4 linked regions of the Homo sapiens genome follow. The protein of the gene in region 4 purifies or fractionates together with the protein of the main gene of each other region. This does not show direct contact. Each region holds a gene or a part of one and is shown on either strand. Other genes may lie near its edges.

The links.
Region 1: the proteins of CELF5 (region 4) and SMAP2 purify together in Homo sapiens (affinity purification with mass spectrometry; 2 studies listed by BioGRID and IntAct, with this or other methods). This does not show direct contact.
Region 2: the proteins of CELF5 (region 4) and PAIP1 purify together in Homo sapiens (affinity purification with mass spectrometry; 2 studies listed by BioGRID and IntAct, with this or other methods). This does not show direct contact.
Region 3: the proteins of CELF5 (region 4) and ERI3 purify together in Homo sapiens (affinity purification with mass spectrometry; 2 studies listed by BioGRID and IntAct, with this or other methods). This does not show direct contact.

What each region holds. Positions count from the first base shown.
Region 1 is NC_000001.11:40,411,149-40,419,164, forward strand, and holds part of SMAP2 (stromal membrane-associated protein 2), read left to right. Parts: intron 1-1,867; coding exon 1,868-1,954; intron 1,955-3,010; coding exon 3,011-3,092; intron 3,093-4,123; coding exon 4,124-4,233; intron 4,234-5,027; coding exon 5,028-5,193; intron 5,194-5,631; coding exon 5,632-5,948; intron 5,949-8,016.
Region 2 is NC_000005.10:43,526,078-43,534,093, reverse strand, and holds the end of PAIP1 (polyadenylate-binding protein-interacting protein 1), read left to right. Parts: intron 1-301; coding exon 302-356; intron 357-4,214; coding exon 4,215-4,308; intron 4,309-6,624; coding exon 6,625-6,718; 3' UTR 6,719-7,827; downstream 7,828-8,016. UniProt on the Homo sapiens protein: Acts as a coactivator in the regulation of translation initiation of poly(A)-containing mRNAs. Its stimulatory activity on translation is mediated via its action on PABPC1. Competes with PAIP2 for binding to PABPC1.
Region 3 is NC_000001.11:44,317,002-44,325,017, forward strand, and holds part of ERI3 (ERI1 exoribonuclease 3), read right to left. Parts: intron 2,744-8,016; coding exon 2,627-2,743; intron 1-2,626.
Region 4 is NC_000019.10:3,219,590-3,227,921, reverse strand, and holds the start of CELF5 (CUGBP Elav-like family member 5), read right to left. Parts: upstream 3,262-8,332; 5' UTR 3,183-3,261; coding exon 2,924-3,182; intron 2,645-2,923; exon of another isoform or gene 2,304-2,644; intron 1-2,303. UniProt on the Homo sapiens protein: RNA-binding protein implicated in the regulation of pre-mRNA alternative splicing. Mediates exon inclusion and/or exclusion in pre-mRNA that are subject to tissue-specific and developmentally regulated alternative splicing.

The sequences.
Region 1 (8,016 bases), on a different chromosome or scaffold from region 4:
TTAGGTAAAAATGATTCCTTCTCAACTGTGTATGAAGGACTCTTACCTTGCAGTTATCCAGAAAAGGGACTTGTCAATATCATATCTGTGCCAAGAAAGAACCCAGTGTGCAGCTACAGCTTGCATGGCATCATCAAAAACAGTTTAGAACCCAAGCATACACATTTCGTTTTATTTGTAGAAAACTGTGGTCTGTCTGCCCAGCTCTGTTCATTGTGCCTAAAGATATGAACTCAGATGAGGTCAGAAAAGGGTATCTGAGATAATTCAGATGACGAAGGAGTAGAGTTGCTATTTGTACACAGCTATTGTGGAAACAGCAGCTCTGCCCTCAGGGTATTCATGATTTCATTGCTGGTATACTGTACCCATGAAAGCAAGCCCGGTTACCGGATGTTTCTCTTAGGAAGGAAATAACCTCCCATTTACCAAAAAGCTATTTCAGAATTTGTTATTTAATGTACTTAGATTTTTTTCATATTTTGTGAAGATTTTTATGCCAATAATTAGTATTTGCTAAGTGAAGACGTTTAATATCAAATGAAAAGAAACTGGCTTTGTTAAAAACTATTCTTTTTATAATGGACAGATAAAACATTTTTAACTTAAATGAAATGTCGTGTTAAAGACATACACTTTGTATGAGAAAAACAGCTGCATGTATTGATTATAAAATTATTTTAGAGAAAATGAAAATTAAAGTGAAATATCCATACATACTCTCACTATCTTTGCTAATAATTATCTTCTTGGTGTGTTCCCCTTTTTTTCTAAATAGTTTCTTTTTGGAGGCATAATTATAATACAGTTATGTAGACTTCTCGTGCCTTCATTCCACTTAACATATATTTCTGTGTTGCTTATATAGTGTTTATAATTTTTAATTGTTGCATCATCTTTCAGTGAGTAGCTAAATCACTGAAAGTAATAATTTATTTACCATTTCCCTTCTGTGGCATAAATGTTATTTAATTTTTTTTAGCATAAATAATTCTGGGGTGAACTTGGTGCATTTAACCTTTTTCATATTTTGGACTATTTTCGTAAGATACATTACAAGATATGGTATCATCTAGGTCAAAGGATTTCAACATTTGTCTCTTCCTAGTTTTGCCAATATACTTTCCAGAATTTGTACCATTTTACTCTCTCTTCTCAGCATTGTATAAGAGTACTGGTTTCACTTCATCCCTCCCACCATTATAGAAAGATCTTTCTCCCTGCATAAAGTGCATTTTAAATTGCATTTTTTATCACTGGCAAGACCAAACATGTTTTTCATATGTATGCTATACTCTGTATTCTTAAGGTTACTTTGTGGTTTTGTTTTACATTTAGATGTTTATTTGATTTTAAAACTTAATTTTTGTTCTTCTAATCTGTAAACTTGAAATTAAGGTTTATTTTCTGACTGTTAAAAAAATGAATATTGAGAGGACCTATGATTGAATTTATGATATCACAAAGGACATAAGCTGAGTAAGATGAACTTATTCACTAGTATACTGATATGAGGGGAGACCTCTCAAAGCATGGGCAAATTAAATTTGGGGCACAGGTGGGCAGCATACTGGTAAAATGTTTTAGCGTCTGTACATAGCCTCGACTGCAAATGTCAACAGTCATGAGTGGGTTAGGAGGGCGGGCGCCTAAGGTGTTTGGAAGACGCCTCGTACAGCATTGAGGCCAATGTGGAAGAGGTCAACTCTCATGCTCCACACCAAGACACCGCCCCCCAAGCTTGTCAGACACTTACGTCAGAATCAATAGGGATTGGAGGTGTCCTTTTCGGACACTTGGAATTATGATTTATCCAACTATTAGTCACCTTGGGCCCTGTGTTCTTTGTCTTGTTAAATCATTATAGAAAGAAAAAGATGACAAGTGGAAAAGAGGGAGCGAACCAGTTCCAGAAAAAAAATTGGAACCTGTTGTTTTTGAGAAGGTGAAAATGGTAAGTTGGGAAGTATTTGCACTGTATGGACAGCCTCAGGTATGTGTATATTTGTGAAAGGGAAAGTAGGAGGTCTCGTGGTGAGTACCATTGCACCATCACAGCTGGGGCTAAAGGGTTCTGCATCTGGATTGGACTGCCTGCTATCATTTCTGCTCTCTCGTTACCAGTTGCTGCCTAAATCTGCTCTGTAAGGGCTTCGCTTTGGGGCCAGATGAGAACTCAGGAAATGCATCTGTTCCATCTAAGCAAGAGGCACATTCCAAGCCAGAATGCCAAGGCTGAGGGACACCATCTGAGCAGATGCTATTTCCACATTAGTCCTTCTCTTGTTAGACCTTCTGTATCCCATTTTCTGATTTCAATGAAGAACAGTCCAGAAGTGAGGCCATATTAGTCCATTTTAAGTGATCCCTTCTTATGTTCTTGCTTTGTCATGTTGAAACAGACACCCTTCTTTTTCCACAGGACATATTGTGGCTGTAGTAGTAGAATCTCTAACATAAAAACTTGGAATCTTGGGAGAGAGGACTTTACTTACTATTGCTTAAGGAAGAGTCTTTTATCATCGTTCTGAATCACATTGTCTGTGGACACAATCACTAGTGATACTGGCAGAGTGAATTAGGTAATCTTTAAACCAACCTCCCTTTTGGTGTTAAAGTAAAAGGTTTTCTAACCACTGGGAGATTTGTTGGCTCTTGGCTCTTGTACCATCAGATACCTACCTTTATTCTTGGCTTTTCCTGGGACCAAAAACTGCTGCTTCTGTTGGATCCCCTGTTCTGTGGTTGTCTTGGTTTCAGAAAGATCTGTCTCTTTAGGACACCAGACAATCACAGGCGATATCTTTGTTTTTCATTTTAGGTTTGGTTTATGCACTTCTGCCTCCTGACTTGATTCTTTCACCTAATACTTCCTGAGTTTTGTTTCTTTGGTAACTCTCTTTGAATAACAGCAGCCCTACCCACAAGAACACCGTGGCTTTACAGTGGAGATGGGAAAAGAGTTCAAAACCACCTGCTTATTTCTTGCTATAACATATTTTCACCTTAGCCACAGAAAAAAGAAGACCCACAGCTACCTCGGAAAAGCTCCCCGAAATCCACAGCGCCTGTCATGGATTTGTTGGGCCTTGGTAAGAGTTGGACTTTTCAGCTTCCATGTTCTTACAAATTTTGATAAATTCTCAGTGACCCTGGAAGATAGGTAGAGATGGGGTTCTCCAGTTTTGTCTTCATTGCCAAGACTGTTCTCTCACATTCTTCCTGATCTGTTTTACATCTGAGCAGTTGCTCTAAGGAAGTGTTTACTGTGACACTTTTCAGAGCGACAGTGTGGTGTAGTGGTTAAGAGCATGGCCTTTGGAGCCAGTGTCGCTCTGTGTTACTTACTGTCTGTGTGACCATGGGTAGTTTACTTAACCTCTGAATGTTGCTTTCATAATCCGTGCAGTGAGAATGAGTCTCTACTTCAAAGGTGTTGTTGGAAGGATTAAATGAGATAATGCCTCTAAAGCTCTTAGCCCCATGCCTGGCACATACTGAGCCCTCCATAAATGTTAGCAGTTTTGCTAAACAGCACCTTTGAGCCTCATGTCAATTCCCTGTACTCCACTCCCTGCCCCCATTCCTTTCATTTTTCAGATGCAACCTGTTTCTGAGATGGCCTGTGGTCATTTTTCTCCAAACCTTTGAAATCCTGAACTAGTGATTCTGCCCTTTCAGAAAGAAAGCCTGTTGTCTGCCTTTCACAGCACTGATGGTTGCACTTTGTTTCCATCCGCTTCTGCTGATTGAGGTTATTGGCTACTTAGGCTTCTAATTTCTGTACCTTTCCTTGCTCTCTGAAAATGAACCCTCCTCCATACCTTGCCCTTCAAATAGCCAGAAGGGAGCCAGCCAGCCCCCCACTGTGGTGCTGAAATACCCTTCAGGCCTGGGCGTCTGCTGCCCTGTGCCTGATAGCTGGGCTACAGGCTTCCCCAGAGCACTCTGGGAATGTGGGGTGAAGCCTCTTTTGAGAAGCCCCGTCCATGCTAGATGGTTCCAGAAGTCTAGATTTCTAGGTCCATGAGCTTATGGGCCACCTTTGCTTTTTGTCTAGAATAGAAGGAAGGCATGGGCTTAATAAGCAGTGCTGCATCTTAACTTCGATCTCTCTTTCTAGATGCTCCTGTGGCCTGCTCCATTGCAAATAGTAAGACCAGCAATACCCTAGAGAAGGATTTAGATCTGTTGGCCTCTGTTCCATCCCCTTCTTCTTCCGGTTCCAGAAAGGTGAGTCTTGTGGGCTCCTCAGGATTAAAGAACATTCTGAAATGGGTGATTTTGATATCTTAATCATGGAACCACGTCATGCTTCCTTGGTGGAGTTGGACTTTGGTTTTCTTGATTCTTCATTCTTCCCTTAACATTGTGTCATTTCTGTCACAGTCTAAGATTGCTGTTCATGCCTTTTTTTCTCCTGCTCAAAAAGGGTGGGCCATTTGAGTTGCTTCTCTGGAAAGTGTGTGATACTGTGAAGGCTGATACTTGAGGCTAGCTCCTCGGCCTGAGTTACTGCCAGAAAATTGTAGGTAGGAAAGACTTGAAACCTTTAATGGCTACCATTCGTGAAACGCCTGCTATGTCTCAGGCACAGTGTGAGGTGGTTTTTGTATATCATTTTGTATATTTCATTAATAATTTCACTCCTTCACCACAAACCTGCAAAGTGGAAATTTTACAGATGTGGAGACATTAGTTTGTAAAAGTTATGTGACTAGCCTGTGGTTATACTAGTAAATGGCTACACTGGGGTCTAAACTCAGTTCCCTCTGCTGCATCATTTGTGGGTTGTTTTGTTTGTTTGTTCCTACCAAATCACATGTTTTGGTGAAAGGAAAGAATTGTAACAGAGCTTAATTATCAGGTGTGTTCAGATAGTTGAATGGTAAAAATGTTAGGAAGCTATTAACTTGAGCCATGAATTCTTATTGCAGATGTTAGGAGCAGCAGAGAGGGAAGGGAGACCCTTAAAGAGACCCCCATGAGAACCATTTCAATTCTCCCCCCGCCCTCTTTGCCCTAAGGTTGTAGGTTCCATGCCAACTGCAGGGAGTGCCGGCTCTGTTCCTGAAAATCTGAACCTGTTTCCGGAGCCAGGGAGCAAATCAGAAGAAATAGGCAAGAAACAGCTCTCTAAAGACTCCATTCTTTCACTGTATGGATCCCAGACGCCTCAAATGCCTACTCAAGGTAGATTTCATGGGTGTCATGGCCATGTGCCAGGTAGAGACATGAGGGCTTCCATGCAGGAATTATTTATTGTGACAGAGGACAGTTGCTTTGGGGGCCAGGATGTCATACACCAAACAAACCTGAACATGACCAACGTATCAGCAGATGGAAATTAATGTAACTCAGAGTCATACTTCTGTGGAGTCTGGGGTCACAATTCGGTGAAGTCTAGCTCAAGGTCTGGATCTGGACCCTAAAGGGAAAATGGCTCGGTCAGCAGCCCATTGGTAAGCTATAGCAGGCCTCGTAGGGACTCTAACTACTTTGCTGTGTAAAGAGCATTGTGAGTAGAGTAATCCTGAGAAATTCCAGCTGGAAAGGGTTAGCCAGGGAGAGTTCGGGCTGACTTTATGTTTTTCCCTCTTTAACCAACCTGTATGTGTGTTTTCTTGGCAGCAATGTTCATGGCTCCCGCTCAGATGGCATATCCCACAGCCTACCCCAGCTTCCCCGGGGTTACACCTCCTAACAGCATAATGGGGAGCATGATGCCTCCACCAGTAGGCATGGTTGCTCAGCCAGGAGCTTCTGGGATGGTTGCCCCCATGGCCATGCCTGCAGGCTATATGGGTGGCATGCAGGCATCAATGATGGGTGTGCCGAATGGAATGATGACCACCCAGCAGGCTGGCTACATGGCAGGCATGGCAGCTATGCCCCAGACTGTGTATGGGGTCCAGCCAGCTCAGCAGCTGCAATGGAACCTTACTCAGGTAAGCTACCCCATTTTACTTGCAGCAAGAGTTTTGAGCCTTCCTCAAGTTTTTCTCGGTTTGTACCTCTCCACTATCCTTTGAATCCTTTCCATGTAGATGAGATAATGTAAGAGACATTGTTAGGTTTGCTTTTTTTTTTTTTTTTTTTCCTAGAAGGTCTGTCTAAAGTCAGACTTTCTGAGGAGTTCTGGGCTCCTGTAGAATAAGCCCAACTGCCTAAATCTGAATCTCTCCACACATTCTCAAAAGCAAAAACAAACACACAAAGAAACCCTGTACAAACAATGAATGCAGATATTCTCACAACAATCTCATTTGGTAGACAGAATACTGCAAGGTTCAAATGGCATGGCAATGGGCATATAAACACCAAATCCAGCGGAGCCAGCATCACAGAGGAGACTGTAAAAAGAGAAGATGGAGCAGGGGCCTAGCAATAATACCACAGATAAAGTAACCCCCCAGAAGGAGAAGGACCTACCCTCATCAAAGACATACTGAGAACAGGTCTGAGATGTGGTAGATTAGAACTCTGTTTACTTGGAGGATCAAAAATAAGAGACTTCAGATATATAGGAGTATAGGTAGTAACCTTGGGAAAGCATTGCTTCTCGGGGAGATGGGCATGGCCTAAAAGGAGGAGGTACCCTTTAGAGGACTGGTGGTGAAGGAAAGAAAGACACGAGAAATGGGAATGAGAATCACAAAATCAAATATACACCTTCTTCCCTCTTCCAAAATAACCACTTCACTAATAAAAGATGGTGCTCTTAATCTAAGAAATTTAGTAAGCCTCCCCAAACCTTCACACCTATTATTGCTGATTGAGAAAAAATAAGACCTTACAAAAATGAACCAAACATGGAAGCTGACATTTGTACACAACTACTACAGGAAGAAAATAGAAAATGAAAATCAAAACATTTCACGTAATGAATATTCTCCCTCAAAAAACAGTCATGAAGCAGAAGAAAATTGTTACACAATCTACCAATCTGAATTAAATGTCCTTAAACATTTGCAGATAAGACAAAACACCTTAAATCAGAAATTCAAAAACTTAAAGCCAAAATGGATAAAAAACTGCATGCTGTGAAATGAAAGTTTACTAAACTCAGAAAAGAAATTGAAGAAAAAGCCAAAATTTTCGTATAAAGACTCAATTACAAGTTAGCTAAAGAACAATAGATTGAGCTGAAAATATATTCGGCATTGAGGAAAGGCATGAAACAGCTAAGAGAATGAAAACTAAATATAGAAAGTAGTAAAAAGAATTAGATGGAAATTAATATGGAAGTTAGGCAAAGAAAACTTACATATATTTGGAGATGCCCAAAGAAATAAAGACAAAATAAATAAAATATGGGACAGTATTAATGTGTTTAACACCAGAAAACATTCTAGAAATAAAAGACTTGGATATAATATGGAAAGAGCCCACTGTGTGTCTGGGAAAATTGACCCAGAACAGTCAACTTTAAAACATATCCCAGCAAATCTACAGACTTTAAAGAACATTCAAAATGTTTAGGGGTCCAACCTTTTCCATACCTCCTACCCACAAAAATCTGTTACTTAGAACAAACAAAAAATACCCAGGTTGACATCAGACTTCCTAGCAGCAAAATACAAAAAGAATAACAAGGAGAGTAGTATTTTAAAGACACTCAAGTGTATGCAAGACACAACAAGTATTTTACAACCAAGCCAGCCAAGCTATCCTTCAGGTATCAAGGCTGTAAAAAATAAATATGCAAGAACTCAGAGAATATCACACTTACAAGACTTTCCTGGGGAATCTAACAGAAGATAAGCTTCATCCACCTAAGAGATGACTGGGGTCATTTTCATTTTTGGCAAAAGAACTGATGGTGAGAATTGAATGTTTAATTGAGAATCTAAGACTAAAACAAAGGTGGTGACAAGCGTTGCAGAATATACATTATATTCTGACAAACAAATACAACTGAAAATGAAGGAGGAGGGAGAAAAGTTGAATAATAAATATTGTATGGGAAAGAAGTAGAAATCGAAGGATGCAATAAGCTGACAAACCAAATCACGG
Region 2 (8,016 bases), on a different chromosome or scaffold from region 4:
GTGGGGTTGGAAACCACAGCTAAAAATGCACTGACACTAAATGACAATGCACAACAGAACAGTTCACTGAAAGACAATAGACAGCACCGTTAGAACCACAAGAACTTGAGATAATGGCATGGAAATCTGAAAACCATAGACTTTCTCAGTGAAGTGAAAATGGCTACCAGGAAGTTAGGTTCCTTTGCTTGTTCTTGCATTATTAGGTGCAGACGGGTGACATCAGCCATGCTTCATTATTGTACTTACAAAAATCAATTCTGAAATGATTACATATTTTTATCACTTTGATTCATCCTAGAATGAACCAACATTTTATACATCTGATGGTGTTCCTTTCACTGCAGCTGATCCAGGTATGTTGTCTCACAGTCATTCCCTCCTCCCAGTTGTTTGGTAAAGTAGTAAATTTACAGAAAACCACATCCTCACCAGCACAAGATTGTAACTTTTTGATGTCTTCACATCATTCTAAAATACCAGTGTAATGGTTTGTCTAATATAGAATGCTCTTCATAGTGACCACTTGAAACATTTCAAATGAAAGTATGATTCCACATATAATGTCTTGTCACTTAACAACAGAGGATGGGAAGAATTCTCAATTAAATGCAACTATTTTAATTTTATATTTCCTCTAACTTTTTTATAATCTTAAATTTTCAGGTGATTAGAATGGAGGGGAAAGACGATTCTAGTTCACTGCATAGTCAGCAACATATATTAATATGGGTTAATACTTTACACGAAGAATTACACATTTCATTCATACTTGGTGTGTGACAGTTAATTAAAATCCAAATCTCTGCACATTTCCTCTTCCAGAAGAGGACCATTTATAGAAAGATTGCCTTAATTGTATTAGATGGAACTGTAGAGTGAGGAAGAGAAATTTTTCCCTTTGGTACAAACTGCAACCAGCTTATGGTTGGAATTTTTCCATTTGTTTCCTCTGGATTCCAAGCATTGACTGTCCTGTGTCTCTAGCACAGAGAAGTTTTTTTAGGGCAAGGAAGTAGAATTAAGTTACACGCTATGGGCATCTTAAACTTCACTAAATGTTACTAAATTGTTTTCTAGCATGATTATGCCACTTAATCTTCCCATCAGCAGCACATGAGGGTTCCTGCTCCTCATCTTTGGCAATACTTTTTATTAAACTTAATTTTTGTCCATCAGATTGTATGAAATTCTATCTTGCTGATATTTTATTTCCCTGACAAGTGATATTGAAGTTTTCTTGTTCTTGTTGACCTTTTTGATTTCTTTCTTTGAGAATTGCCTGCTAATACTCTTTGTTCATATTTCTGTTGGATCATTTGTCTGTCTTACTGATCTGTAATTCCTTTTGTAGTCTAGAACAAAGTGATTCTTAGCTGAGGGTTTTGGTTACCTTCTTTCTCTCAGTATTTGCCTGTCTTTGCATTTTGTTTATAATGTCATGTAGAACCTTTGAGTTTTAATGTGAACAAAATTTATCAGTCTTGTTTGTAATTTCTGTGGTTTAAGAAAGTTTCCTTACCATTTCTGTTTTCTTCTAAAAATCATTGTTCTTTTTTATTTTTAGGTCTTTAATCTACCAGTGCAATTTTTATATAGGATGATATCATAGGAATTATCTTTTCCATTGCCTGTTGTCTCAACAATTGGTATTAAGCCATCCTTCCTTTCCTAGTTATAATAAGCCCCCTTTGTTGTATACTATGTAACTCTTCTATCAAATTGTGTCTTATTCCTGTGTTTGTGTGAATCTTTTTTTCTGTTAATCTCTTTCTATGCCAATACTACACTTAAATTATTTTTACCTTACTGTGAATCTTGCTATGTCTGGTAAGACAAATCTTTCCTCTTATTCTTAAAAATTACCTTGATTTATTTTGATTATTTGTTTTTTATTTTTTCTAACCTGTTTAATTGTTTCTAGTACTGTTCGATTTACAGAAATTCAGTTTGGTTGTTCAGTTTCTTTTCAAGGAAAAGAAGTAATGTAGACAGCCAGTAGATCTCAGTTTCTTTTTCTTAAACGTTTTTTAATCTGCTATACTTCATGAAAGTAAAAGAAATCTTACAGTTTTACAGAAAAATCAAGCTAAATTTTGTTTCTGCATTTTGTTCAAATAATCTTGACCTTTTCTCAGAGTTTCAAGTTATTTTTTCTCATCATTCTAAACATGCTTACTTCTGTCTTATATTTTTGTTTTATCTCTTAATTATAACCCTTCTGTTATTTCTGATCATCACACATAAAATTTTTGCCTTAACCGTCTTAAACTTTTATTTGGAAATGATTTCAAACTTACAGAAAAGTTACAAAAGTAAAATTGTACAAGGAATACCTTTTACCCAGGTGTACTTTTTGTTAACAGTTACTTGCTTTATCATTTGTGCTCTTTCCACACACTTTTCTTTTTTTCTCTTTTTTTTTTTTTTTTTTTTTGAGACAGAGTCTCACTCTGTTACCCAGGCTGGGGTGCGGTGATGCAACCTCGGCTTACTGCAACCTCCACCTCCTGAGTTCAAGCAATTCTCCTGCCTCAGCCTCCCAAGTAGCTGGGATTACAGGCCTGTGCCACCACGCCTGGCTAATTTTGTATTTTTTTTTTTTTTTTATTGAGACAGGGTTTCACCATGTTGGTCAGGCTGGTCTTGACTTCCTGACCTTGTCCACACACTTTTTTTTTTTTTCTTAAACCATTTGAAGTTTCATATTAATATGACCCTGATTAAATGCTTCAGTGCTTTGTCTTTTTTCTTTTTTCTTTTTTCATTTTTTTTTTAATGAAAAACACTGTGGCTTGGATTATAGGAACCTCTGTCCAAAATGGTTTATATTTCCTTCTGCCAGGAGCCACAGAGTAGGTATCACTGACTTGGACAAATTTTTTGTTTTCTTGTCATAGGGGTTCTTTATGTGGGTAGTAGGAATTTGAGGTGCAGGCCCATTGTTAAAAATTCTCTGGGGCACCAATTTCTACAAAGTGCTCTGTCCCTATTCCAAACCCAGGCAGACATGACCAAGCTTCCTGCTATCTCGCAGGGAAGATAAAATACCACTGAGATATTTCTTGGTCTTTTTTCCTGATTCACCTTTTGTTTAAGATACCAGACCTTTGAGGGTCCCAGGTTTGTGCAGGTGAGGTTGGGCATGGAGCATGGATTTCATTTTCCTGTTTCACATGGGGCCCAAGACCTTGCTTTCTGGCTTTCTGTGGGTTTTAAAATCCAAGCCCCTTAGTTACCGAGACCAACATCATCTGTCAGCCTCCCAGCTGCAGCAGCTGCAGTTTATATATGGCTTTCAGTTCCTTCTTCATTTGTGACCTGATGACTTGGATTTTCTTTTTTGTGAACTTATCCATACATTTAAAAGAATGCCTGTCTTTTTGTAGCAGGAAGGTTTTACTGTTAAAACGGTCTCTAAATTGTCAAAATTGGGTATCAAAATGTCCCCAGCCCTTGAAGCTGGAGTTACGGTTTTATACAGACTGACACAGTCTTGGAAGAACATGGCTTTTACCCAGTCTAATATAATTGCAAAATTTCCGTTGGCTTCTGTTCATAAGAAACTATAAGGTAACTAGTCTTAATATATACTGATTCATTTTTTTATTCAGAGGTTAGGACTTCATAAAGAAATACTTAACTTAAAAGGTACCCAATAACTCTTCCTAAGACAATTGGCAGATAGGTGTAATATCACCTGTATTACCTTGGAGGACCCAATGAAAGGAAAGTTGGCAGAGCTGAAACGTTTACCAGGTAGCTGCCTTCCCCATCTCTCTGGGAAGAAAGGGAAGGAAAATCCCCCATTGTTAAAACTTTTGGTAGGTTAACTTCATCTGAGGAACAGAGACCAATTGTTGTTACCTGCTTTCTTTACTTCCTTGTGGAGGAGTACAGAGGGAGCTGGAAACCAGTAGTATTTGATTAATATCTTTCCAATGGAAGGACTGTTCTTCCCCAACAGTTATATAACCATTATTTTGTCTGATGGAAAGCAGCAGTAGAGGATATAAACACATTGGCTATGAATGTACATCACCTACAGTGGCTTTGATTTCCAACTTATATCTATAGTACTATATGTAATTACTTTAAGATTTCTGAGCATGCAGGGGGGCAAAAGTCATAATATTAAAAAACATTTAGGGGTGATTGGTCATTTCATGTGATATTTTTTCAGTATTTAGTTTTTCTCCTATGTTGTCTTACAGATTACCAAGAGAAATACCAAGAATTACTTGAAAGAGAGGACTTTTTTCCAGATTATGAAGAAAATGGAACAGATTTATCCGGGGCTGGTGATCCGTAAGTTTTCTTCAGTTACTAACTTCGTGAAATTTCTGTGTCTAATTTATAGGTGGAGATTAGACAAAGTAGCTCATGAAGGAATGGTGTTTGGGGCCAGGCGCAGTGGCTCGTGCCTGTAATCCCAACACTTTGGGAGGCTGAGGAGGGCAGATCACTTGAGGCCAAGAGTTCAAGACCAGCCTGGCCAACATGGCGAAACCCTGTCTCTACTAAAAGTACAAAAATTAGCCAGGATCACAGAATCACAGCTACTCGGGAGGCTGAGGCACAAGAATTGCTTGAACTTGGAAGGCAGAGGTTGCAGTGAGCCGAGATCGTGCCACTGCACTCCAGCTTGGGAGACATAACTAGATTCTGTCTCAAAAAAAAAAAAGGCATTTTGATTTGATGGTGCTATGTGGTAGTGTTTATGTACTAAAAATTTTCAGAAAATTGTATTAACTCACAGACTAGTTCTGAAAAATGTATAGTTGAGGAAAATAACCATTAAAATATAGTATACTTAAGCATAATTATTTTTTTAAAATAGATTCTATTGTATTTAGACTTTAAGAAGCTCTAAAACTTACTGTAAGATCTTGGGCAACTTCTGTTCTGCTTCTCCATCTATAAAATAAGAATAGTAGTACCTGTTGAGTCTTTTTTTTTTTTTTCTTGAGAACTACATGAGAATACATAAATACTTAGCCTTCCGGCACACAGTAGAAGGCTCAAATCTTAGCTATTAAAGGGTAAGTTAAGAGTAAAGAAAACAGATTACTATGTAAAAATGTTTGAACTGATAAGAAGATGTTAATTATAGGACTGTTTATATATCTGTTTCTTCACCTGCCACTCTTTGTAATTAAAGATCCCTTTAAACATATTACTCACTTACCATCAGAGTGCACTACATTTTCTTATAGAAGGACCAGGAAATTGTGAGGTTTAGTACCAATTCTGTTAACAACTTGTGTATATTTGGACAGGCTACTTAGTTTCTTTTCTTCCTAAGTAGGAGATGGGAGGGAATAAATTATATCTTGAACTTATTTTTTTTTTAATATCTCCTGTGTTGTAGATTTTTTTAAAAAAGTGAACCACTTTTATTCTAGTGATATTTTAATTATGTGTCGGTTTGAGATCTAGAAATACAATTGTTGCTGTACTTCTATATTCTAGTTTAATAGAAAACAAAAAAAATACAGGGATTTAAGGACCCAGGCAGAACTAGGAAAGTTCCATCTACTTGGGTATACCGCTGGAAGATAAAGTTGTTCTTGGCATTGAACTTCAGGTTATCCTCTTAAGTTTATTTGGTAAGCATCATATTCTCTTGCCCTAATGAGCTCATGGTTATTTCAACACATGGCCCTGTATTGGAAATGGGGAAGAAACAGAAAAGGACTCATCAGCAGTTGGTAGGGTTGGCAAGATTGTTTTTTCATGCTTGTAGGTGGAAGGGATTGGATTATTGGAGGGGTGGGGAAGATGTTGATAGAATCATGTTATGGAGGAAAAGGGGTAAGACCTGGAGTCAAATTCTGGCCCCGCCACACACTTAAAATTTTACATTGTTCATTTAACCTTCCAGAATCTCTTTATTTTCCATCTCCAAAATGAAGATGATCGTAATGCATATCTTTTTAAGATGGCTATGGACATTCAGTAAGAATGTGTAGATTAAATCCTTAATTGACACTTTAAATCTTTCCCGCCATACTTAACTATGGGAAGCCTTGCTTTCCACCATTTTAAACTACCTAATAGTTGGAAAAAAATCTGGAATAGATGATCTCAAAAGTAGCTTCCTGTGAAAATCTGATTCCAAATAAATGGGAATGTGACTAAATTGTCATCATGGGAATAACCCAGCAGAAATCATAGCAGGAATAGCACTTTCTGTTATTAAGTAGACACAAAATATTAGTGCATCACTAGAGGTGAATGGCATATTTGAAATTATGTTCTATTAATAGTTATATTCTAATTGTTTGTTGGTAAGGTAAATTTATTAATATCGATCTTGAGCCCCAAGTTTATATGTCAAGCCTTTGATTAACTTTCAGGTTATAGAATTTAACTTATGTCTAAAAGTATATATATTCTTTACTATAATTTCACACACAAGGGACTCAGAATCTGTAAAATTTTACTTACCAAATTAAGCATTTGGTTGTCCGAAGACTGCCATTAATGTAATTCTAAAGTTAGGCTTGTGTTCTATTATAAGTCAGTCTAGGAAAGTTGTATTACATTATTTTTTTCATGATTTAGCATCTTACTTTCTGAGTTGAAAAACCTTACACTTATGAATCATCTTTGCTTTTACAGATACTTGGATGATATTGATGATGAGATGGACCCAGAGATAGAAGAAGCTTATGAAAAGTTTTGTTTGGAATCAGAGCGTAAGCGAAAACAGTAAAGTTAAATTTCAGCATATCAGTTTTATAAAGCAGTTTAGGTATGGTGATTTAGCAGAACACAAGAGAGCAAGAAAATGTCACATCTATACCAAATTAAGGATGTTGAGTTATGTTACTAATGTATGCAACTTTAATTTTGTTTAACACTATCTGCCAAAATAAACTTTATTCCCTATAACTTAAAATGTGTATATATATATAATAGTTTATTATGTACAGTTAATTCTACTGTTTTGGCTGCAATAAAATCGATTTTGAAATAAATGAAATGTTGAAAATTTTGCTAGTTGGTTAGATGCTTATCCTTTAAATTCTACTTTTCTTGAGGGGAAAAAGTCTTCTTCTGGAAATACATATTACTGCAAAAATGTAGCATCCTTTTTTAGGTAGGAGTATTATAGCTTTCATTTTAGTTTGACATTTAGTGTCCCAATGAATTGAATTTCAAATATGAATCATAATCTTGAAAATCTTTAGCACTAAAGTCTTGGAATATATCAACAACTGATTTACATATGCAGATGCTATTTGATACCAAGGGCTTTTTAAATGTCATGGGGGGGAAAAACCCAACTTGGTGAACTCCCAGCTAAACAACCAAGACTTCACTGAAGATTTATTCCAATTCTAGAATTGTTCTTTTTTATTTTTATTTTTTCAACTGACTAACTTCATTACCTTAAAGGCTAGAACATTATTCTGCTTTATTTATATGGCTTTCTCACTTTTATTTTGTAGCATGGGTTGCATCGACTTTTTTACTAGAGAATTTTACTAGATATTTGTCATTCAAGTTTTCATCTGCTTTATAATTGATACACCTTGAGGGTCACTTTTCTAATACTTTTACTATAATGTGGTACCACCTCAGCCCTAATAAATAATATTTTTACCTAATGTCAAATCTTTTTCCAGCTAACTAAAAACTGTGTACAAAAGGATTGCTTGTAAATATGCATGTAAATAGTTCTGTTAATAACCCACTGTTTTACATTTGGTACATCTGTGTCTGCTAATACAGTTAGCTTTCTCACTTTTCTGCTTGTTTGTTCAGTCTGAATTAAAATTAGACTTTGAAAATAAAGCTTAAATAGTTGTTTCCTCTAAATTTTTGAAGTAGCATCTGGTATTTTAAATAATTTGCTGTTGAACTTAAATGACATAATTAATTTACTTAATGGTTTGAAATCAAAGAAATCATATTAGAAGATATTTTATTCATTCTCTGAATAAGAATTCAGTAACAAGTCTACCTTGAAAAACTAGCAAATATAAAACATTAAAACTTTAAAATTCC
Region 3 (8,016 bases), on a different chromosome or scaffold from region 4:
TGAAGCAGTAAAAGTAGGAGTCTCTCTGTGTGTGCTAGAGACTTGTTCAAACTGGAATCCTTCTTCCTACTGTCCAGCACTGAGCCTGCTTCTCTCCCCAAGCATGTGCCCATGTGTGTGCACATGTCATACGCATGTGCGTGCACACACACACACACACACACACTGGGGTTAAGAACTTCTTGTGCACAAGAGAGAAAATCCTGCCAGAGGAACTACTTAAGTATAATCTGGAGGTTTGGGACTGTTCCTCACACTTACTAATGAGAGATTTTCTCTGGTTGGAATGACCTCCATCCCCACCCGCAAAAGGCACCAACTGCCAGGTTGGATGAGGTTTCAGAATGACAGCCCCCATCCTGTGTCTATGCCTCTCGGAGATACAATTCCATCTGGTATGGAGACAGGGCAAAATATATATGATCTGAGGTTTTCCAAACAAGACTTTACTTACTTACTCAAAATAACAAGTCAGCAGTACAGTTGTTTTTGGGAGAGACAGAAAATAACTCCTTGACAATATTCATTCATTTAAGGGACACGTATCAAGTGTTTACTTGGTAGCAGACCCTAATGATGGGATGGAGATGGATCAGGTCTAGTTTCTTCCCTCAAAGAACTTATAGTCTAGTGAAAAGACAGATAAATAATTATAGTATAAAGTATCTGATCAGTTCTATGTTGGAATAAGCACAACTCAATCTGGGGATCAGGGAAAGTGACCCTAAGCAGAGTCCTGGAGGTCAAGCAGGAGTTGGCGGGGAGAGTGGGAACTCTGTGCAGGCAGGAGGACCATCATGTGAAAAGACAGACTGTAAGAGGGCAACCTCTGGGTGAGGGGAGCTAGGTGGGAGATGAAGCAGAGAGATATGAGGCTGGCCAAAAAAGGATGGACAAGATCATGGCGAGTTTTGAGCTCTGGAAACCTGAGACAAAATGGCAGACCCGGTGCCTACAGAACAACCACATTTTCACTTTTAGAACAGCCTTCATAATAAAGATCCCAACTACCACTCCTACTCCCCTCCAAATTATGTATGTGCATCCTTGGGTGAAGCTTTCTAGAGAGAAGAAACTGTTCATCATAGTCTCACAATCCCTCCTCCCATTCCCACAAAAAGTAGCAGCAGCAGCCTTACTCTAAAAGAAGTCCCTCTTCTTCCGATACTCTCAAGCATCCACTCCTGCCCAGGGTCCAGCTCCAGCAGAATACTGTTACATTCCTAAACAGGTAGCAAACTTACTAAAATTTGGGCCTGCCTGTCTACGTAAGGACAAGAGGACATTAGCCTTTCAAGGCCAGTGGAGGGCTCAGGTAACTGGCTGGCTTAAAGAAAGTCTTTCCTTCCCTTCGCATAAGCAAGGGAATTTTCATCATCATTAAAATGGTGATTTTTCAAAAAGGGCAGAAAAGTCAGATTAGCGCCCCCTGGTGGTATAGGTAAATCCCAGGGGAAAGGGGAAACCCCGGCAGAGGAAGGCGAAAACCAGAACCCAACATCATTAGTTGGAATAACAAAAGGCTTAAGAGGCTAGGCGCCTTGGCAGATGGATGCCTGCAACAAAAGCCCCACCTGGGTCAGCTGGCAAACACTGGCATCGAATTCAGGAGCAACCTCGAGACCTCCTGTCTGGGCTAAGTCAGCCTCAGGGCCCACCAGGGTCAAACAGGCTCATCCCCAGCCTTCTTACCAAGGAGACTGTTTGGGATAACTCAAGAACCCTTTTTCACCTATTTCATTCACATGTAGAAGATAGGTCTCTAAATGAAGGCACAAAGTCTCTAATGTACCTCAGCCCCAGACTCTTAAAAGATTCTCATCACCCCTGCTACCACACATTCTTAACCCCTGATTGCACCACAGCCTGTTGGCCACCACTGAGTGCATTACATGACATGTCACAGGGAAAAGTAGCCACAGAAGACTTCACACAGTTCTGGGAGTTAGAACTTGCAGGGGCTCCTCCCCTCTGCCAATGGCTCTTTTGAGCCTCCAGCAATCATTAAAATCTCAGTTAGGCCCAGTTTCACAATCTGTAAAATGCAACCAATACTAACCTGCTGACAAGGAGGCCAAGTACAGTACCCACCTAGGATAAGCAGATTTCAGCCTTGGCCAGCCAGGTCTCATGCTTCACTGAGACCACTCTTCTCTTCCCTCGGTGACAGAATGTACCTTCGACAAACTCAACCTACGCTTCACACAGGACCACTTTACAGGAGGACAGAGTAACAATGCCAGAAAGCTAAGAAGGCCTGAACATAACCCTGCCTTCCAAGTGGCTGAAATCTTTACCTCTTGCCAAGGGGCCCTAAGGAAAACTGAACTGGAAAGAACTTGAACCCCAGAAATGCCATTCTGCTCCTGGTCTCCAAGTGCCGGTCACCAGGAAGGGATGCTGGGGAAGCAGGGGTAGACTAAGCCACTGCTCTCCCTGGGTCCCCAGTAACAACAGTGACCTGAGTGGAGTGGCAGACTTCATAAAACCTAACTGCTAGGTCTAGTGTGCACTTGCCTTAAGGATTGATAAGCCCTATGCTTTCTCTAAGTGGCCTATATAGAGCACCAAGGATTCCAAAATTCCCCTCCCAGCAGCCCCTGCTGCCCACTTCCAGGGCCCTTACCTCTGTACAGAATGGGGTAAGCTGTGGATGGACTACAGGCTGGACATACATGTGAAAGGTAGACTCAATCTCCATGGTCCGGCCATTTAGCTTTAGGATGGGGAACTCGATGATTTCCTGGAGTGCCAAAGATACAGAAAAGGAAAAATAAGTTATTGTAATCAACCATTTCCAACAGTAGCTCCAAGTCAACAAAGAATGAGTGTTTTGGATTCATTAGTGTTTTGGGTTCATTAGCTCCTGCCAGGCCAAACCCAAGATTGAGTGAGACGGCACCAGCAGTTACAATCCTAACCTTCCCACTGCTAATATCCTCATAGGTTCCAGGGACTGAACACAGCCCTCATCCCCATTGTTTCTGGAAATGGGAAGGAAGACAGTGGTATCATCTGCCCCAGTTTCTCCAACTGGTTCTCTAGCAGAGGCTTGCTAACTTGAGCCCCTAAGAATACGCCCTTCTTTCTCTTGCCCAGGTCCCTGTCCTGAAATGGGTCTGATCTCCTGCCATATAGACAACCAGCCATCAGACCAATGCATAGATTTCCTTGTATGAAGTTTGAACCAAGCTGGTAAGTTTCTTCATTAGTTCTTATTTTTCAAAAAAAGATAAAAAATAAAGCCAAAGGGGATCCCAAAGAGAAGGAGAAAAGAGTAACAGTAATAGGAGCTAGCGCCTCCCACCTTTCAGGCAGCACACACTACCTCTACAACGCCAGCCCAATCGCTTAGCTAGCCTTTCCCAGTCCACTGAAACATAATGGAAGAGAAGGACAAGGAGTGACAATTTGTTTGGTGTCTCTAAGATTAATTTGTCTCCGCTATTTAATAGAGATGCACAGCACCAAGGTCCTGGTGTGCAAACAGGCTTGCAGAACGCTGGCTGTGCAGCACGCCTCATACATCGCTCCTGGGAAGGGAGGAACGCACCAGAGTGGGGAGAGGGCAGAAGAGAGCACGTGCGTACCAGAGAGAAGAGGGAAAGCGAGGAGAGAGAATAAAAAAAATTATTGCTTTTTAATATTCAAAAACAGTTTGCAAAATTTAATCAAAGCAGAGGAAAAGCTAACATTTTTACCACTTTGACATTTTTATTAGCGCTTTCATAAATTTTTAAAACATGAATGGAATTAGTTTACAACACAAAAAAAAACTGCCCTGAAAACATCTGGAAGAGACAAATAGGAAATAATAAAAAAAATAAATAAAAGCAAAATTCTCTGAGTAAAATTAGCATGTGGAAAGGGCCTCCACTGCAGAGAGAAAGGAAGGGGGCTCTGCCTATTCAGTGACCCTAATAGTCAGCTCCAGCAGCACCCCTTCCCCAGGTCCTTCATTCTGGAGAAGACCTTTCCAGTATCATTAAAATCAAGGTAAAGTGGTTCTCTCCAGAGACAGCCTGGAGAAGCAACACGAAACGGATGACACCTGACTGCACTTAGGAAATTGATGGGTGGGAAAACACAAGGAGAAATGGTCAATCTCCTTGATGTCCCAGGAAAGCCAGGTATCCTCCCGGCAAAACATACCCACTAATATTGGGCTTGTTTTTAAAGCATCTATTTCAATCCAACACATCAGGACCGAAAACCAAATCAAGTCAGTCAGACTTCATGCCAGAGAGATTCAAAGATTGTGGTTGCCTTGTCTCCGTGGGCTGATCTCCAAAGATGAGGAAGCTGACAGGAGCTTATTCCCAGAGATAGAAAGGGCAAAATGGCTGCAAGGCTGAGGCAGAGGGGAGAGAAGGGAGGCCCAGACTGCTGCTTAGACCAGGTAATACCTCTCCTTCCAAGGTGAAGAGAGGGGGACACTCATTTCCCAATTCCCTGGACCTTCTGTTCCCCAAGAAGCATTACATACAGAGTAAATGGGGGTTTGGAACTGAATAACAAAATCGAACACACACCAAAAAAATACACATTGGTCCCCCTGCAAAATCAGGTATCCAGGATTCCAAGAGCCAACTCTGAGGTGTTGCCCATGAATCAGGCTCATCTGACTCCTGATTTTTCCGATGTGTCCTTCCTCTTCCCCTAAGTAGAAGAAACACTTCCTCAACAGAAAGAGCTCTATAGCCTGGTGAGTATGGCTGCCCTGGTGTCTAAGGAAACAAATACAGCCAGCTCCTCACTAACAATGTTAGCTGGGCCCACAATGAAATTTAACCTGTGACACAACTGTACTTTTCATTTAAACTTTCATTTGGAGAGCAGCAGTGTTTGGAGACCTACAGTTTGTCCTGCTAATAAAGACAAGTGTTGGGACCTTTAAGGATGCCATTCATCTTTGGCTTTTTATTAAATTCAATTTTCTTAAGCCCATGATACATTATGAAATTAGGAGTTGACATTCCTCTGGAAATAAAAATATCTATCAAACATTAATAGAAAAAAACCCTCTATTACCAAGAATTTATGGCTTAAAGTTGATCTCTTTCCACTTTTTTACAAGCACATGGTTTGTTTTAGATATCCGAAATGCTATTATAGATCTAGGATTTCATTAGTATTTATTATAAAATAGTATGTGCTTCAGCTTCCACTCTGACCAGCACCAAGTCAACATCCCCAGCAGACTCTCTGGAAACTTGGCCTTTGGGTTTCCGCATTGCAGCAAATAACAGCAAATACTGTAGCTCAATATTCAAACTTTCCTGATGTTAGCTTCCTCACCCATAGGGAAATGGGGCCAACTACGTGCTGAAACTCAGTGCCATGCTCCCAGAGAGGAAGAACAAGCCAGACTCGGATCCACGCAAAAAAAAAAAAAAGGAGGGGGGTAGGCCCCTGAAATTCCCAGGGTGCCTACACCCAAGGCTCAGGACACATCAAATTGGGCCTATTATAAACATATCTCTGATAATGCTAGCTCATCAGCCAAGCCTTCTCCCCAAGACCAAGAAGAGGTGGTTTCAAGCACCAGTCTCAAAACGTGACTTTGCAGGGGCCCTTCCTCCACAACATGAGGAGCTGTTATTAACAATGAGCCTACACACTGGCATATTCACTTGAGCTACTGAGGATGCAAAAGAGAAGCTTCTGAGAAAAGACTCTCTGAGAAATTAGAGCAGCAAGGACCTCACTGAGGTACTTCTTACCATCCCATATTGCCCAGCCAGTACTTCCATACTTCCCAGAACCTCAAAATACTGGCCCAAACAGCCCAGTAGTGGGAGAGGTGCCCCAATCTGCACCAAGTTGGCACAACTCTGCAGCCAGGGCACCTGAAGCATGACAAACATTTTGAAGATTTTTAGCTGATAATGATCAGAGATGGAACCCCAACACTACAGGTTAGTGGCATTAATCCCAACACAAAGATTTGTGACAATGTGCCCAAGTGCCAGCCTCTATGTCCAGTTGCTCAGATAATGAAACTGTTATTCCTGACCCTGACCTTTTCTCTCAGCCAATTTCATCATTCCCCTAGGAAGAGGTTTATTTCAGAAACAGTTTTGTGTAAAAGTAGCACCAGGAAGGAAGGAAGGACCAGTCGTATTTACCAGCCCTCTTTCCCTATCCTAATAATAGCTTTACAATTCTTTGCCTTTGTATGCCATTTGCATTCAATTAAACTACCTGAGTGCCTACTTTGTGTAGGCTATCAGACAGGGGCTGGAGCAGGACTAGAGATAAGATGTAGTCTCCACTTTGGAGAAGCACATGGACTATGAGTGGAAAAGATAGGCAAACAAAGAACAGTACACTGTGATAAATACCTTAGTGGAGGGACGTACACAGTGTTGTTTTTCCATTCACAAAAGTGTAGTTTCACATACATTTTCTTATTTTACCCTCCTTAATCCTGGCAGACAGGTTACATCATCATCACCATCACCATCTTCAGGTCATAAATCAATACTATTAAGCATCTACTATTCACCAGGCAGGGGCTGGCTGTAGACACAGAGATGAATACAATGAAAGGTGGCTCCTCTCTCTGAGATGCTCAAGTCTGGGCAAAGGGTGAAGAGGAGCTGGCCTCCAGTGCTCTCCAAGACATGTGGAAAATGCAATCGTTTTATTCCATTTATTGTTTACTACGTGGCAGATACTGTGCTAATAGGAATGATCTCATTTAATCCTCCTAACTCATGAGGTGGGAATCATAGTCATCCCTATTTCACAAATAAACTAAGGCCCAAAGATGTTAACTCACTTGCTGACACTTACACTGCTTGTGAGGGACAGAGCTGGAACTCCAAAATGGGAAAATGAGAATGAGACTTAAGAGTAGGACTAGCAGCTTTCAAAATATGAAGGGTCAAGAAAGATCTGGTTCTCTTAGTCTAAAAGGCTATCCTGTAGAGAACTCAAGTCTACCATCTAGAAAGAGAGGCTGCTCTCAAATTTTAAGAGCAATGAATGTGGACTCTCCAGGCAGAAAAGTTCTAGAGTTTGCTACTGAAAAGACTCCACCATGGCTGCAGTAACACAGATGGCACAGATGGCATCAGGGAAGGCAGGAACCATGTGCCTTCAGTGTGATCTCCAGCACCTAATTCCTATGCTGGCACACAGGCTTCACTCTCTCAACTTTTGTTGTGTAATCACATGAAAGGGCTGCTAAGTGGAGGAGACAAGCCAAAGGCCTAGCTGTACCAGAAGACACAAAACTCTCCGCAGAATCAGAGAGGGGAAATGATCTGCCTAAGATGTCAAAGATGGTCAGTGGTACAGCCAGGATTCAAACTCAGATATTTCACAGTTCAAAGCACTTTCTACTAGATCTACTCTCATCTCTGAGTGGTTTCCTCCCTGAACTACTATAAACCACCAAATCCCAGTCTTACCTAGGGTAATCAACTGTTTGGTTGATCAGGACCAAGGGTTTCCTGCAACATAGACTCTTTTTTTTTTTTTTTTTTTTTTTGAGACGGAGTCTCGCTCTGTCGCCCAGGCTGGGTTGCAGTGGCGAGATCTTGGCTCACTGCAAGCTCTGCCTCCCGGGTTCACGCCATTCTCCTGCCTCAGCCTCCCGAGTAGCTGGGACTACAGGAGCCCGCCACCACATCCGGCTAATTTTTTTGTGCATTTAGTAGAGACAGAGTTTCACCGTGTTAGCCAGGATGGTCTCAATCTCCTGACCTCGTGATCCACCCGCTTCAGCCTCCCAAAGTGTTGGGATTACAGGCGTGAGCCACCGCGCCCGGCCAACATGGACTTTCAATGCTAACACTGAAACACCATTCACAAACTACCTACAGCACTGGGCTGTCTGCCAACGGTGGATGAAAACTGGCCATAACTTAACAGCTAAGAACAAAAGCCTCAGAATTGGGATTTTTCAAATATCCAAGGTTCCAAACCTATTGTACCTACTGTCTCCCTCAATATTGTCCCTGTAGATCTTTTGTTGAGGAGAGAGAAGACAGAAATAAAAATGAAGCA
Region 4 (8,332 bases):
TCACGGGCCCCTCCATCCCCAGCACCATCTCTGGGGGCCTCACTCTTGGCTTTGGGGAACCTGTCACCCCTATGTCACACAGATACAGGCACAGCTGCTTCTCCTGGCCTGGGAGGAAGGCAGGGGGGGTAATGGGGGCCTAGCTCCGGTAAATGTGGGACCCAGGGTATGTCTCTCAAGCCCTCAGTTTCCCAGAAATGCGCTGTCACTCGGAGCCCACCTCCATGGCGATGGGTTCCATGGGGAAATCAAACAAGTCCCTGCAGCCTGGACACCAAGGAAGGGCTAGAGGTGGTACCAGCTGACCCCCTCCGGGCTTGTACCAGGAGCCGGGTGCACCTCCAGGGTGTTCTCATCCCACCCCACTCTACTCCTTACAGATCTCCTGTGCCCAGTCTCATGGGCCCCGCCGGGCATCCAGGGAAAGGGATTTCTCTCCAGGCCTGGGGTCCATATCCCCAAGGCCCTGCCACTCTGAACAGGCACACTAAACCACGCCAGGGCTCCCAGAAACAGCCCTAATAAGGTCATGTTGGTGGCAGGTGTCTGAACTCACTCCTCTCCCCAAAAATCCTGACTTCCCATTCACCATTCCACCTCCCTTCAGCCAAGGCCCAGAGAGGGCCCAGAGAGGGGCAGTCACTAGCCAGAAGTCACACAGCTGAGCCCCAAACGCAAACCTGGATCACAGATGCTGATTCTGAAGACACCCCCCCACCCCTTCGTGCCAAGCACCTGCAGGCAAAGACCAGGTGAAGTCCAGCCAGGCCCCACGCAGGTGGGGATTCACTTCCCCGAGGGTACTGGACCCATTTTCGACACGAGGTGAAGCCCCTGTATCTCACACACAGACGGACCTGGGACCCCTAAAAAGTGGAGGGTGATTGCCGGCTGTCGTGCACACGGCTTCTCAATTCTCACCCTCCAAGGAAAGCCCGCAAATGGGAAATACCCCCGAGGTACCCCAGGGACCCCAACATTCTCCAACCTGTAAAAAAAGAACTGGGGATGCGTCATGGTCCTGCTCTGTTGACAGCAGGGAAACTGAGGCTCAGGGCCAGGTGAAAACCCAGCCCCAGCCCCTCCTTCACCCCTCACTTCTCCCGTGCCCAGGTTTCCCAGAGATTTAAAAATAAGAAGGAAAAAAAAAAAAAGATGAAGAAGAGTCACCAGGATGCTCCAGTCCCTGCACCCCCACCTGTCTCTCCGACCTAGAGCTCAACCAGCGGCCTTTCAATGCAACCGTTTGGGGGGCCATGTGGACTCCCCCATTCCCACGGGAATCTTTCTAGAAATGGGTGCTTTGGGTGTACCCAGGGGTGGGGGCGTGTGGGAAAAGCCCACCTATCACCTCTGGACTCCAGATATTGACTTATGGGGGCCGCATGGGAGCCCCTCTGCCCTCCTAGGCCACATGGAGGAGTTAGATTTTTCAGGCCCAATTTTGTGTGTGTGTGTGTGTGTGTGTGTGTGTGTGTGTGATGGTTGGTTTTGAAAAGAGATGGGGAATGGGGAGGGGTTTCTTTCCTCCCTCAAGATAACCAGCTGGAGGGTCTAGCTGAAGTGACAGGCCTGGGCCCCATCTCACCAGACCCTCCCTAGGGCCTTCTTGAACCCCTTCATTCATTCATTCATTCATTCATTCATTCATTCAATTCATTCATTCAATAAACATGCATTCATGCTTACCGGGCACGCAGCGCTGGGGAAAAAGTGGGTGTAAAATAGGTCATGGGCCCCGGTCCTTCCCCAAGGCCTCTCCAGGGTCTTCCTGGAGGATGGGAGGGGGAGGGCCGGGGGTGTCCAGCACAAGGCCTTTGAAGTGGCACCCCCAGTCCCCAACACCTGACCGGAAGGCTGTCAAAGCCACCCCAATTCAGACGCTGGGCCCATGATGGGAACCAAGGGCTGGGGATACAATTGCCGGACACCCCCACCCGGGATGCCATCGGAGGGAGAATCCAGTGGGAGGGAGGCAGACAGGCCTGAGGCCGCCCACGCCTCCCTCCTCCTCCCTGTCCACCCCAGAATTTGGGCTCTGCCCAGATGGACACGTCCAAGCTCATTGTCTTGGGCCTGAGACCCCAACACATTGCTAAGAGGCTCGGCCAGTTTCAACTTGAGCCCAAGGTGGAGGCGGGGGAGGGGGAGGGCAGAGAAATGGAGGAGAGAATGCTGATCCACGCGGAGGTGGTGGGGCCAGGGGGTGGGCAGCGACGGGAGCCTCTCCGCCACCCGAGGCAGGCGAGGCGGGCGCGTCCCCCCGAGCCGGGCGCCCCCAACCCGTCTTCCTTTGTAGTTACCGATTAGCCTGGGGTCCTGGGCATCCGTGTCCCCCGCGGCCGGACCTGCCCCGCCGGCCTGGCTTTGTGAAAATAACCAAAGCAATGGAGTCCGCAGGTGCAAACTTCCCCGACGGGGCCTGGGGAGGCTGAATGAATGGGGGTGGGGGGGCAGGGAGGGGTGCCGGCGTTCCCGAGGCTCCCCTGGCAAACGGGCAGGAAAGAGTGGGGTGAGGGAGGGAGGAAGGGGTGGGGGTCTGGGGGATGGAAGGGTGAGGGAGGGAGGGAGGGAGAGAGAGGGTGCTGTGGGGGGAAGGATGAGAGGTCGAGGGAGATGGGAGAGAAGAGAAAGGGAGAGAGAGAGGGAGAGAGAGAGGGAGAGAGAGAGGAGATGCCGGAAGGTGGGGAGGGAGGGAGAGGGGGCGGAGGAGGGGAGGGGGCCCGCTCGGATCTGTCAGCTGCACCCCCAGAGAGGGGAGGAGGGGTGGGTGGGAGGGAGGGGGTAAGAACCGATGCTCCGGCAGAGGCAGGCAGAGGAGGGAGGTGAGCAGAGGAGGGATGGTGATGGGGGAGAGAAGATGCCGGAAGGTGGGGTGGGAGGCGGAGGGAGGGGGAGAGGGGGGAGGGGGCCGGGCGCCCACCTTTGTGCATCCCCGTGTAGGGGTCTTTGAGCACCGTGAGCTCGTAGATGCGGCCGAACTGCTCGAAGAGCGGCTTGAGGTCCTTCTCGTCCAGGTGCCGCGGGATCTGGCCCACGAAGAGTTTGATGGCGTCCAGGTCCTTCATGCCGTCGGGCTGCCCCCCGGGGGGCTCGGGCCCGCTGCTGCCCACGGGCGAGGGCCGCGGCTGCAGGAGCTGCTGCTGCTGCCGGCGCGCCTCGCTCTCCGTCAGGCGGGCCATGGCGGGCGCGGGACCGAGCCGGCGGCGGCGGCGGCGGGCGGCGGGCGGACTCGCAGCTGGAGCGGCGGCCGCGCCTCCCGCCTCCCTCCCGGGCCCCCGCGCCCTCCTCCCGCCCGCGCCCGCCCCGGCATCGGGACCACAAAGGCGGCTCCGCAGCGGCCCCTGGCGGCCGCGCCGCGCGGGGCAGCCGGCGCCTCCCCGCATCCCCGGGCCGCGGGGGGAAACTGAGGCCGGAAGGCCCCGGGCCCCGCCTACGGGTGGGCGAGGGCGGAGCTGCGGGCGGGACGGGCCTTAGCCGGCTTCCCAGGGGTCCCCGCCGGCTCCCGCGGAGGGCATCGGCCGGAAGAATGTCAAAAGTTGCTGGGATAATGTAGGGGGCTTGTCGTTGAAAGCGCCCGTGATCCTTAAAGTAGGTAACTCATCAATAATATTAATAACACTAATAATATGGCTGGGCGCGGTGGCTCACGCCTGTCATCTCAGCACTTTGGGAGGCCGAGGTGGGTGGATCACTTGAGGTCAGGAGTTCGAGACCAGACTGGCTAACACGGTGAAACCCCGTCTCTACTAAAGAATACAAAAATTAGCTGGGCTCGGTGGCGGGGGGTGCCTGTAATCCCAGCTACTCGGGAGGCTGAGGCAGGATAATCACTTGAACCCAGGAGGCGGAGGTTGCAGTGAGCCAAGATTGTGCCATTGTACTCCAGCCTGGGCAACAAGAGCAAAACTCCGTCTTGGTAAAAAAAAAAAAAAAAAACACCTAATAATAACAACACTAATAATAATTAATCAAGAGCAAGACAAAGTGCTCCCACTAATCACGACAGCACAGGAGAAATGGTAAAAGTATCTTCCAGTTCTATAGGGTGCTTACACATAGAAAGTGTCCTTGGCCCTTTAAGTATGTAACTCATCAATAATGTCATCAACAAGGAGGGAGACTGGCTCGCACTGATAATGACAGGATAGGAGAAATACTGAAGTATCTCCCAGCTCTAAAGTGCCCGTGATCCTTTACGTATGAAACTCATCAATAATATTAATAAAAATAATAATACGTGCTGGCCGTGGTGGCTCACACCTGTAATCCCAGCACTTTGAGAAGCAGAGTCAGGAGGACCACTTGAGCCCAGGAGTTGGAGACCAGCCTGAGCAACATAGTGAGACGCCATTGCTGTAAAAAATAAGAAAACAGGCCAGGCACGATGGCTCACACCTGTAATCCCAGCACTTTGGGAGGCTGAGGCAGGTGGATCACCTGAGATCAGGAGTTCGAGACCAGCCTGATCAACATGGAGAAAACTCTGTCTCTACTAAAAACACAAAAATTAGCCAGGCATGGTTGTGCATGCCTGTAATCCCAGCTACTCAGGAGGCTGAGGCAGGAAAATCGCTTGAACCCGGGAGGCGGAGATTGCAGTGAGCCGAGATTGCGCCATTGCACTCCAGCCTGGGCAACAAGAGTGAAACTCTGTTTGAGAAAAAAAAAAAAAAAAATCAGCCAGGAGTGGTTGGTGTGCACCGTTGGTCCCAGCTACTCGGAGGCTGCGGTGGGAGCATCGGTTGATCCCTGGGATATTAAAGCTGCAGTGAACCAGGATCGCACCACTGCCTCTGGTCTAGGCGACAGAATGAAATCTTGTCTCAAAAAAAAAAAAAAAAAAAACACTTCCCAAAGATGTCCCATAATTAAAGCCCAAGTCCTTCTTGAGGCCCACAAGGCTCTGCGTGTCCTGTTCTGCCTTGTCCCCACCTTCCCCTGCTCCCTCTCTCCCCCTCCTCACTGCTGCAGCTACACAGGCCTCCTCGCTGTTCCTCTCACTTGTCAGGTGCGGTCCTGCCTCAGGGCCTTTGCACGGGCTGTACCCTTTGTCTGGGATGTGCTCTCCCCAGATGATGTGTGGCTCATTCCTTAATTCCCCATCACTTTCCCCATCTACCTTATCTAAAACCGCTCAGTCACCATTATCTCCTTTCTCAGCCTTCTTTTTCCCTCCACAGAGTTACACCCATTTAAAATTTTATTTTCATTTTTATTTTTATTTTTTTCGAGATGGAGTCTCTCTCTGTCGCCCAGGCTGAAGTGCAATGGTGTGATCTTGGCTTACTGCAACCTCCACCTACCAGGTTCAAATGATTCTCCTGCCTCAGCCACCTGAGTAGCTGGGATTACAGTTGCACCCCACCACACCCAAATAGTGTAAAATTTTATTAACGTACTTATTTATTTATTTATTTATTATTGAGACAGAGTCTCGCTGTGTCACCCAGGCTGGAGTGCAGTGGCATTATCTCGGCTCACTGCAACCTCTGCCTCCCGGGTTCAAGCAATTCTCCTGTCTCAGTCTCCAGTGTAGCTGGGATTACAGGCATGTGCCACCACACCTGGCTAATTTTTGTATTTTTAGTAGAGATGGGTTTCACCATGTTGGCCAGGCTGGTGTCGAACTCCTGACCTTAGGTGATCTGCCCACCTCAGCCTCCCAAAGTGCTGGGATTACAGGCATGAGCTACTGCGCCCAGCCTAAAATTTAATTTTTAATTCTTATTTTATTTATTTTTTGAGACAGGCTCTTGCTGTCGCCCAGGCTGGAGTGCAGTGGTGCAATCTCGGCTCACTGCAACTTCCACCTCCTGGGTTCAAGTGATTCTCATGCCTCAGCCTCCTGAGTAGCTGGGATTACAGGCTCCCACCACCACACCTGGCTAATTTACAATTTTATTTATTTATTTATTTATAAGGCAGGGTATCGCTCTGTCACCCAGGCTGGAGTGCAGTGGCATGATCATAGCTTGCTGCAGCCTTGACCTCTTGGGCTCAAGCGATCCTCCTGCCTCAGCCTCCAGAGTAGCTGGGACCACAGATGTCCATGCCACCATGCCTGGCTAATTTTTAAATTTTTTGTAGAAATGGAGTCTTGCTATGTTGTCCAGGCTGTACGCAAACTTCTGGGCTCAAGCAATCCTCCCGCCTCAGCCTCTCAAAGTGCTGGGATGACAAGTGTGAGCCACCATGCCTGGCTTTAGAGGACATTTTGTGCTCCATCCAGCCAATGGAACACGACTCAGCCATGAAAAAAAAAATGAGGCTCTGACCCAAGCCATACCTTGAGCACATCATGCTTGGTGAAAGATGTCAAACACAGAAGACCACACAGCGTGTGACGCCATTTGTATGAAATGTCCACCCGCGTTAGAGGGGGAACTGAGGCCCAGAGAGCTCCAGTGGCTGGTGCAAGACCACACGGTAAGAGAGCTGGGATGTAAACCCAGGAAGCCAGACTCTGGAGCACACACACTTCCCACCATCCCATACCATCTCCCCACACATCAGGCAGCTGAGCCCCAGTTTCCTTATTTGCCAAGCAGGACTAAAGAGAGAGGAGAGGGACCGGGCACGGTGACTCACACCTGTAATCCCAGCACTTGGGGAGGCCAAGGCTGGCAGATGATCTGAGGTCAGGAGTTCGAGACCATCCTGGCCAGCGTGGCAAAACCCCATCTCTACTAAAAATACACAATTAGCCGGGCGTGGTGGCATGCACCTGTAATCCCAGCTACTTGGGAGGCTGAGGCAGAATCGCCTGAACCTGGGAGGTGGAGGTTGCAGTGAGCCGAGATCGCACCACTGCACGCCAGCCTGAACGACCAAGTGAGACGCCATCTCAAAAAAAAAAAAAGAAAAAGAAAAAGAGGATATGGTGAAGGCCCTGGTCTGGTGTGGACTCATGAACTAAAATGTGGGCTTAGCAGAGTGTCTGGGAGCTTAGCTCAGTGAATGGCTATTCATCATTGCTGTTACTGGCAGCCTCCTGGCCACCCCCAGATGGAACAGAACATCAGAACTGGGTGACGAGCAGAGCTGGGCAAGGGGTCAGGGGTTCTCCCACAACATCCTGCCACTCGGCCCAGCACAGACGCAGGTGCTTAGACTCAGCTGAGGCTTGGCCGGGCACAGCGTGGCACTGGGGCTGGTGGAGTCGGCCAGGAGACATAGGCTTCGTCTCCATGGAGACTCAAGCAGGATGCTCAGAGCCCCGTGAGCCTCTGGTGTTCTGGGAGAGTCCTTAATAAGAATTTTAAAAATCACGCCTGGCCGGGCGCAGTGGCTCACGCCTGTAATCCCAGCACTTTGGGAAGCCAAGGCAAGTGGATCACTTGAGGTCAGGAGTTCGAGACCAGCCTGGCCAACATGGTGAAACCCCGTGTCTAAAATTTGGCCGGGTGTGGTGGCTCATACCTGTAATCCTAGCACCTTGGGAGGCCGAGGCAGGCACATCATGAGGGCAAGAGATTGAGACCATCTTGGCCAACATGGCAAAACCCCATCCCTACTGAAATTACAAAAAGTTGGGCGTGGTGGTGTGTGCCAGTAGTCCCAGCTACTCAGGAGGCTGAGGCAGGAGAATTGCTTGAACCCGGGAGGCGGAGTTTGCAGTGAGCCAAGATCGCGCCACCGCACTCCAGCCTGGGCAACAGAGCGAGACTCCGTCTCAAAAAAAAAAGAAAAATCATGCCTGTAATCCCAGCACTTTGGGAGGCCGAGCTGGGAGGACTGCTTGAGCCCGGGAGTTCCACACTAGCCTGAGCTGTAACATAGCAAGACTCCATCTCTACAAAAAATACAAAAATTAGCCGGGTGTGGTGGCAGGCACCTGTGGTTCCAGCTACTTGGGAGGCTGAGGTGGGAGGATCGCTTCAGCCCAGGGAGGTCCAGGCTACAGTAAGCCAAGACTGTACCATCGCACTCCACCCTGGGCAACAAGAGCAAAACTCTGTCTCAAAAGAAAACAAAATCAAAAGAGAAACTCACAAACTCCTATGAGCCAAAGATGCACTTTTTTCAGCCTCTTCCTCCTCTTTCTTCCACCCAAAACAAGAGCCCAACCGAATTCGGGTCTGACTTCTGAGCACTTAAACCCAGCATTCTGCCTCCTGAATTTCATCCGTGGCACAGCTAAGGGGGTGGGTGAGCACGGAGAATAGCGAGGCTGTGAGCCTGGAGAATAGCGAGGCTGTGAGCCTGGAGAATAGCGAGGCTGTGAGCACGGAGAATAGTGAGGCTGTGAGCTTGGGCACATCTGGGTACCACAGGCCGGTCTCCCTGTCTTGTTAGCGGATGCAGTCTGGTGGGCATCGGTCACTGCAGG